2 separate regions of the Homo sapiens genome follow, and region 2 is linked to region 1. Evidence: fine-mapped expression QTL. A gene starts in region 1. The other region holds a variant in brackets. All regions are shown on one strand. Distances are from middle to middle. Region 1 holds the start of TMEM170A (transmembrane protein 170A). Region 2 overlaps TMEM170A (transmembrane protein 170A).

Region 1 (4,389 bases):
TTCCTATTGAATGACTCGAGTTGAAATGGGACATGTGACCTACATCTAAGTGTGATACGTATGTAATACATGTGGTTATATATATAGAGAGAGAGAAAGAGAGCAGAGAGAGAGAAAGAGAAACAGAAAGCCAAAGAATCAAAATATTACTGAGTCTAAGTAAAGGGTACATGGGTATTTGTTATACTGTTCTCTCAACTGTTTGGCAGGCTTGACATTTTTCAGGAAAGGGGAAAATTAAGGAAACAAAGATTAATCTGGTCCCAGTAGTGCCTCCAGATTGCACGAACATTTCATGTATCACACAGGGTCACCAGAATACCATCAATTTTTTGATATCACTGTCAAAAGTGATCCTAGCACCTTCTGAAATAACGTGAGCTGCCAGATTCTCATTTCAGGAATGACCACAAGCGAACATCTGCATCTGACCCCAACCTGCCTGATGACCTTACCCGCTACTTCACAATCCCGTCCGGGAAAATCCCTGGGCACATAACACTGCAAGTCCCAGGTGTCCGCTGAACGGCGCCTGGCAGTCGCTGCCCAGGGGATGAGAAATCACAGGTGCCTTGTTTGGAACTAGAGTCTGGAATCTCGTCCTCCTTCCCTCTGCTCTGGTCCCTCATTGTTTATGAAGACCTCAGTCCCCTCTGCTGGGAGCCCCACCTCCCCTTCCAGGGCCACGGGCTCTAGTCTTCTTGCCTTTCAAGGACCACACAAATAACTGTGCCTCCCCTCAAAGCTTTTCTCCTCCTTCCCAAGTGAAGTCCTCTCTCCTCCCTCCAGCTTTCAGGGCACGGAGCGCTCTTCCTGGCATTAGAATTCTGAGCAACCCTCCTAGCAGGCCCAGCTCAAGCCGCAGCGGGGAGGAAGAGTTCAAAGGAAGCTGTGCCAAAGATCTCGAAGGCTTAGTGGGAGACCCAGCAACAGGTGGCACCAGGTCTGGGAAAGATTCCTAGAAAGCGGAGCGGGTCTCGGAGGGGGAGGATTTAGCCCCAGGCGCCCGCGATCAGCGAACGAGCGCCTGCGCGGAGGGGCCGGGCTGCAGCCCCGGGGCAAGGGGAGCGCGAGCTCTGACTCCTCAGCGCGGCCGGGCCGCTCCGAGACCCCTCGAAGGAGGCCGGGCGCCGTGGGGCAACCCAGGCAGGGCGGGGACCACAGCCTCCCGGGCTCGTGGGGTGCAGCTCTGAACCTGAGGCGCTCGGAAGCTCAAGGCCAAGACCCGCTCGGGTGGCGGCCGAGCGCCCTCCAGCCCCGGGCCCACCTGCGGCCGCTCTCTGCATCTCACGCCCAGCGGGACTCCGGGGCTCCGCCTCAGGGACCGCCGAAGAAGTGATGGGGAAAGGGGCTCCGGGCGAGCAGCACGGCCCCCCTCCCGGAGGACAGCGCCCACGCCGCCAGCAGGCTGCGCACCCGGGACCCCGCCCAGACTCGGGGCGCCCACAGCACGGCAGCGGCGACGGCGGGGCGCGCAGTGCGCAGGCGCGGGGCGGGCCGTACCTGGGAAGGAGCAGAGGGAAGTAGAGTTGGGGCACAGGGTCCCGTTGCCCACCCGCGGCACAACCTTCAGGCTCAGGATCTGCTGCAGGAGCCCGGCCGACCCGCCGCTGCCGCCGCTCCCCTCGCGCTCCATCCCGTCGCCATTCACCACAGAGAAATGAGGGACGAGCGCCCGAAGTGCGGTAGCGGCCGGCGCCGACTCACCCTCGCCGCCTCAGCGTCACCTCCAGCCGGGGTCCTCTTCCCCCAATCCCAACGGCGCTGCCAAGTGACCGTTGCCTCCTCCAATCACAAGGCGCCGCAGCGCTCGGGCGCAGGGCCAGGGTTGTTCCCGCCCCCAACGTTGCGCAGGGCTCGCAGAGACACAGCCCCACGGACGCGCCCCCTCCTGGACGGCGCGCTCTGGGACCGCGCGCTCTGCTCTGCCCTTCTCTGCAGCGCCCCCTGTGAGAAAGTAGGGAATTGCATGCGCCCCAACAGAGCCGCGCTATGGAGTTACCAGGGATCTGGAAAAATACAGTGATGGAACGGATATGTAAAGTTCTAGTTATGACTGGACTCCAGCATTTATGAAACCTTCATGAACAGAACAAGAACGTTCTCTATTTAAAGCTGATAGTAGAAAGAGCCCATGCAAAGTCTGGTGTGGGACCAGAATGGGAGGGAGGCTATGTAGCCTCTATAGAGCTCGACTTAGTTTTAAATAAAATAAAATGTACAGAGATTCGGTTCAGAGCAATAAAATTAGATCACACTTTTTTCTTTTTTTTGAGACGGAGTCTCCCTCTGTGACCCAGGCTGGAGTGCGGCCGCGCGATCTCTGCTCACTGCAAGCTCTGCCTCCCGGGTTCACACCATTCTCCTGCCTCAGCCTCCCGAGTAGCTGGGACTACAGGCGCCCGCCACCACGCCCGGCTAATTTTTTGTATTTTTAGTAGAGGCGGGATTTCATCGTGTTAGCCAGGATGGTCTCGATTTCCTGTCCTCGTGGATCACACATTTTTGTCTCACCTCCCTTCAGAAAGCCTGTTAAAATGAAGGCAGAGAAATCGTAAAAAGGAATAAGCTAATGTTCAGTTTGTTTGCACTGCTGTAACAAAGTACCTGAGAGTGGGCAATTTATTAAGAACAGAAATTTATTTTCTCACAGTTCTGGAAGCTGGGAGGTCCAAGATCAAGGTCGCAGCAGGTTCCATGTCTAAGGACGGCCCGTTCCTCACTGATAGCACCGCCCGGGCGTCCTCACACGGTAACAAAGGGAGCCCACTCTCCAAATCCCTTTTATAAGGGTCCTAATCCCATAACGGGGGCTCCACTCTTCTGACTTAATCGTCTCCTAAAGGCCCCTCCTCTCAGTACTATCGCATTCCCACGAAGTTTCAGGACATGAATTTGGGGGAACACGTTCAGACCATAGCAGCCATTAACAATAGTGTTCTGGAAGGGAAGTTACCAAGGATAAGTAATGTCCACAAGGTTCCAGGTGATGAAGAGGCTTGTGACGAATAATAATGTTTTTGTTTGGTTGGTTGGTTTGTTTTGAGACAGAGTCTCACTTTGTTGCCCAGGCTGGAGTGCAGTGGCGAAATCTCAGCTCACCGCAACCTCCGCCTCCCTGGTTCAAGCGATTCTCCTGCCTCAGCCTCCCCAGTAGCTGGGATTCCAGGCGCGTGCCACCAGGCCCAGCTAATTTTTGTATTTTGAGTAGAGATAGGGTTTTGCCATGTTATCCATGTTGGTCTCGTTCCTGACCTCAAGCGATCCACCTGCCTTGGCCTCCCAAAGTGCTGGGATTACAGGCGTGAGCCACTGCACCTGACTGGTAAATTTTTTTTTTTTTTTTTTTTTTTTTTTTTTTTTTTTGAGACGCAGTCTTTTTCTGTCGTCCAGGCTGGAGTGGAGTGGAGTGTAGTGGCGCAATCTCGGCTCACTGCAACCTTCGCCTCCCGGGTTCAAGCAATTCTCCTGCCTCAGCCTCCCAAGTAGCTGGGATTATAGCTCCGTGCCACCATGCCCAGGTAATTTTTGTATTTTTAGCAGAGATGGAATTTCACCATATTGGTCAGGTTTGTCTCAAACTCCTGACGTCAGGTGATCCATCTACCTTGGCCTCCCAAAGTGCTGGGATTACAGGCGTGAGCCACCGTGCCCAGCCTGAAAACTTCTTTAAAAATCATTGAATTGTACAGTTAAAATAAATGAATTTTATGCTACATAAATCATACCTTTTAAAATCTTTTTAAAAAGTGACCAATTCACCGATCTGCCAAGCAAGGTGGCTCATGCCTGTAAACCCAACACTTTTGGGAGGCCAAGGCTGCAGGATTGCTTGAGCCCAGGAGTTTGAGACCAGCCTGGGCAACATAGGTAAACCTTGTCTCTACTAAAAATTCAAAAATTAGTCGGGTGTAGTGGCACACACCTATAGTCCCAGCTAACTCCAGAGGCTGAGGTGGGAGGATCCCTTGAGCCCCAGAGGTCAAGGCTGCAGTGAGCTATCATTGCTCCATTGTACTCCAGCCTGGGCAACAGAAGAAGGCCCTGTCTCAAAAAACAAACACACAAATAAACAAACAAAAAACCCCACAAGAATTTAAAGATGGCTCAGGAATTTAGTAAATAATTAAAGCTGAAACTTTTTGTCATATAAGTTGAAATGGAAAAACCTGTGATTCACAGGTATTTTCTGGCGCAGCTAGACTTCTTGTTGGCATTTCAGATTCTGTAGGATTTTTTTGTGACAGTGGCTGACAGCCTTTTTCCATAATTGTGCTATATCCAATGCTGGCCCTGGAAATAAATGGTGTTGCTCCACCAAATTAATCATAATAAAGAAAGGAAAAGAAAAATAAATAGAACAAGAAGAAAAAGATAGAAATAAGAAAT
Region 2 (4,389 bases), 21 kb before region 1:
GCTTAAAATCATGTATTGTAATGACTTAAAAGTGTTTTACGGCAAGGCGCACAATTACAGGTGGCTCGCGGCTGTAATTCCAGCACTTTGGGAAGCCAAGGTGGGCGGACCATTTGAGGTCAGGAGTTCGAGACCATCCTGGCCAACACCGTGAAACCTCGTCTCTACTAAAAATACAAAAATTAGCCAGGTTTGGGGGCGCACATCTGTAATCCCAGCTACTTGGGAGGCTGAGGCAGGAGAATCACTTGAACTTGGGAGGTGAAGATTGCAGTGAGCCAAGATCGCGCCACTATACTCCAGCCTGAGCAACAGAGCGAGACTGTGTCTCTAAATAAATAAATAAATAATAAAAGTGTTTTACGCAAGTTTAAATTAGTTGCTAACACTTAAAAATGGAGAGATTTCAAACAGTAACCTAGATTTCCAGCTTCTCTTGAAAATAAGTATCTGGCAAGATTGGGTTAATCATCGAATAAAGCAGAAACAGGCTGGAGCCAAGCAATAGCTGACTCCTTCGGACAGGGCTCTCCACTTGGCCACAGCACAAATCCCTCCAACTCCCTAAAGATTCCTGGTTCACTGTTCTGTTTTCTCGGTAATAATTTAGGGTGTCCTCCCTGCCGATCTCAGCACCTTTACTCCCAGATACATATACAGTCTTGGGGTCTTCTGTCTGAACTGTGTACGTATCTTTCCGGGGTGCTAGAAACATTCTGTCTCTTGATCTATTAGTCACATTAAGTATATATATATATATATATATATATATGTAAAATTCATTAAGCTATACATTTTAAGATTTGTACACTTTACTGCATGTTAAACCTCAACTTTAGAAAATTAGAAGGAATGAATGGGCAATCTCCTGCCAGACATTCTCTGTATGTGTCTGCAATGGCTGGAACTGCAGCAATCTTGTGACCATGAGGTAAACTACCCAACTTAGTCCCATTTGTTAAAAATGGCAGAACAGTGAGATTTATGATGTCACCAAGGGTATTAAATTAACCAAACACGACGAAGCTTCTCTTCATGTGGACTTACTATTAAAATAATACATTTTCACACACTGTATCAATACTCACCTATTCCTGCACAGAATCAAACAAAAGTTTCTTGATGGGAATATATGGCCCAGCAAGTAGAGTTAATAAGAATTTCAAGTTCACATGTTAAGTACGGTTTAATCACAACTTTGAACAAGAATTTTATCATAAATTAGTAAGAAGTAGAACATAAAAAAAGTTACACATGCTAGATATTAAGTTATTTAAAAAATGAAAACTGAAGTCAATTTTATTACAAAAGATTAAACTCATTAGCCACCAAAAAGAAATATAATTCCAACTCAGAATTGAAAGTAATTTTTTATTGATAAACATTTACACTAGAATTAGAAATGTCAGTAGAAAAATAAAATTTAAATAATTTTCTATTGTACAAAGATTTGATCATTTTGACTGTAGCAGTTAGTGAAATAACATAATATAAAAAGTTAAGCTGATCTGAGTCACAACCAGCCTTATAGAGTGCACAAAAAAGAAATGCAAGTACACGACATTTCTGCATATGGTCTGCTAATGGCACCGATGCTTCACATTCCAGGAAATGGTTACTTAGGGAAGGTTGATATGTGCTGCAGCATAATAGGAACTTAATTCAAACCAGAGCAACCAGAAAGGATACTGGAGGCAAAAGCCAAAATACAATTTAAAATCTTAAAAAAAATAAGGAACGGTTTAAAGGTAATTAATGAACTTTTCCTCACCTAGTGTAAACATTTCATAAGAAGTAATATTTTGTGGTCACAAAAAAAGCACAGATACCTCTTTTAGAATATTCATGATGCTCTTGTGTATGAACTTAAGTTTTCATGAAATGCTTTCACCTCAAAACCCCGTATTCAAGAATCAAGAAGGCCAAGCATGATGGCTCATGTCTATAGTCCCATCACGTTGGGAGGCCGAGGCGGGTGGATCACTTGAAGTCAGGAGTTTGAGACCAGCCTGTCCAACATAATCAAACCCTGTCTCTACTAAAAATACAAAAATTAGCTGGGCCTTGTGGCGGGTGCCAGTAATCCTAGCTACTCAGCGGCCAAGGCAGGACAATCACTTGAACCCAGGAAACGGAGGCTGCAGTGAGCTGAGACCATGCCACTGCACTCCAGCCTTGGAGACAGAGCAAGACTCCATTTCAAAAAAAAAAGAAAAAAAAATCAAGAAATCAGCTTTTATGGTCAGGAGGCTGCCTCCCTCCCTCT[C/T]TTGCATTTCTTTTTTTTTAAAAAACAAAGCAGAGGCCGGGTGTGGTGGCTCATGCCTGTAATCCCAGCACTTTGGGAGGTGGAGGCGGGTCAGGAGATTGAGACCATCCTGGCTAACACGGTGAAACCCCGTCTCTACTAAAAATACAAAAAATTAGCTGGGCATGGTGGTGGACGTCCGTAGTCCCAGCTACTCGGGAGGCTGAGGCAGGAGAATGGCGTGAACCCGGGAGGCAGAGCTTGCAGTGAGCCGAGATCATGCCACTGCACTCCAGCCTGGGCGACAGAGCAAGACTCCGTCTCAAAACAAAAAAACCAAAAAACCAAAGCACAGCTGGGGGAGGATATTTCTAAGAAATCAGTTTTTGGCAAAAATTCTCAAAACTATATAAGGTAAAATGTTCAACACAATTGCCAATATTCTTCCATCTGAGTGACCACCCCCAAATAATTCTATATTTGAGACATAAAAAAGAAAATCAAAGCTATTCCTTATGATTCAAATAGTCTTTCCCTGAAAACATTTCAAGCTACACCGCTCAAGCTATTTAAAATCTATATATATATATAGATTTATTCACTGGAGAATACTTCACCTACTGGGATGGATGAAACACTCAGTAATTTGAAGATACCTTTTATACGTTTAGTTTTTTAAAAGAGTAGATAACCAAAATATATCAAACAAGAAACAGAAACAAATACACCTTTCAAAATGCCCTAATTTTAAGTCTTAGCTCCAGTGAAAAATATCTAACATTTTAATCATGTATCAGTACTTCAAAAGTTACTGTTTAAGAGGAGGGGCCCACTAACTACTGGTCTATATGTTTAGTGTATGAAATTACATCCAAAGAATGCTTTAGGCAAGAACTCCTTCAAAAGACATTTTTCAGTAAGAGGCATCCTTCAGTAGAGATGATGGCAATCATTTCCCATAAGAAAAGTTACCAATTCCCCAGATTTCTTAAACTGAAGGGATACTTTTGAAAATCACAGCTCTTTAAACAAAAAACTAGAATTTTTACAATTTGCCTGTGAGAAAGATTTGAGCTTCTTGTTAGGGAATTTGTAAGAATATTTGGCTGCATTACAACTCTACTTATAAGTTTCTGCCCGTGTATATGTCACTATAGTTTTGATAAGTTAATTACCAAAATTAGTAATATTATTTTAAGACAGGGTCTTGCCCTGTGGCCTAAGCTGGAGTTCAGTGGCGTGGTCTCGGCTCACAGCAGCCTGAACCTCCCAGGCACAAGTGATCCTCCCACTTTAGCCTCTTGGGTAGCTGAGGCCACGCCCAGCTAATTTTTTTTTATTTTGTAGTAGAGACAAGGTCTCACTATGTTGCCCAGGCCAGTCTTGAACTCTTGGGCTCAAGCAATCCTCCCACATCGACCTCCCAAAGTGCTGGGATTATAGGTGTGAGCCACTGCGCCCAGCCATAAGTGGTCTAATTAGTCAAAAGAATATGTCCAGTTTTTGTGATCTCTTTGTAATTCTTTTCTATGAGTTTCCCTGGCAAATTGGTCCTCCTGACTTTTTTCTTTTTTTTTTTTTTCCAAATTGGGCAGACTCCAGAATCACAGTAGATTCAGAGACTCTCCTCCTGGCTATTTTTAATCAGAAGCCAGAGTGTGTATTGCTTTAAATGGAATAGATACGTTCATGTGTATATGACCTCATGGGCTGTTAAGCCTTAATCTCACAATGAAAACTTTCCTTTAAAGATGTCAGATTTATGGCCAGGCGCGGTGGCTCACGCCTGTAATCCCAGCACTTTGGGAGGCCGAGGCGGGTGGATCACAAGGTCAGGAGTTCAAGACCAGCCTGGGCAAGATGGTGAAACCTATCTCTACTAAAAATACAAAAATTAGCCGGGCACGGTGGCAGGTGCCTGTAATCCCAGCTACTCAGGAAACTGAGGCAGGAGAATCGCTTGAACCCGGGTGGCAGAGGTTGGAGTGAGCTGAGATTGCACCACTGCACTCCAGCCTGGGCAACACAGTGAGGCTCCGTCTCATTTAAAAGAAAAAAAAAAAAAAAAGTCAGATTTAATCACCAGAAACTATTTTGCAGATAACCACCACCACTACCACCACACTGATTGTATTCCATACAAA

What was found. PIP is the estimated chance that this variant, and not a neighbour inherited with it, causes the effect.
Region 2: its variant is the best candidate, but not a certain one, in a credible set for the expression of TMEM170A in sun-exposed skin (GTEx, PIP 0.60).

What each region holds. Positions count from the first base shown.
Region 1 is chr16:75,462,965-75,467,353 of GRCh38, forward strand. It overlaps TMEM170A (transmembrane protein 170A), which reads right to left and starts at 1,725. Exons shown (of 3, transcript NM_145254.3): 1 at 1,504-1,725. The coding sequence starts at 1,636. RefSeq lists enhancers at 156-205, 1,395-1,895 and a silencer at 1,072-1,701.
Region 2 is chr16:75,441,887-75,446,275 of GRCh38, forward strand. It overlaps TMEM170A (transmembrane protein 170A), which reads right to left. Exons shown (of 3, transcript NM_145254.3): 3 at 1,168-4,389. Among named protein-coding and RNA genes, the nearest start is that of CFDP1, 11 kb to the left of the region's middle. The variant C/T (reference allele first, on the strand shown) is at 2,267.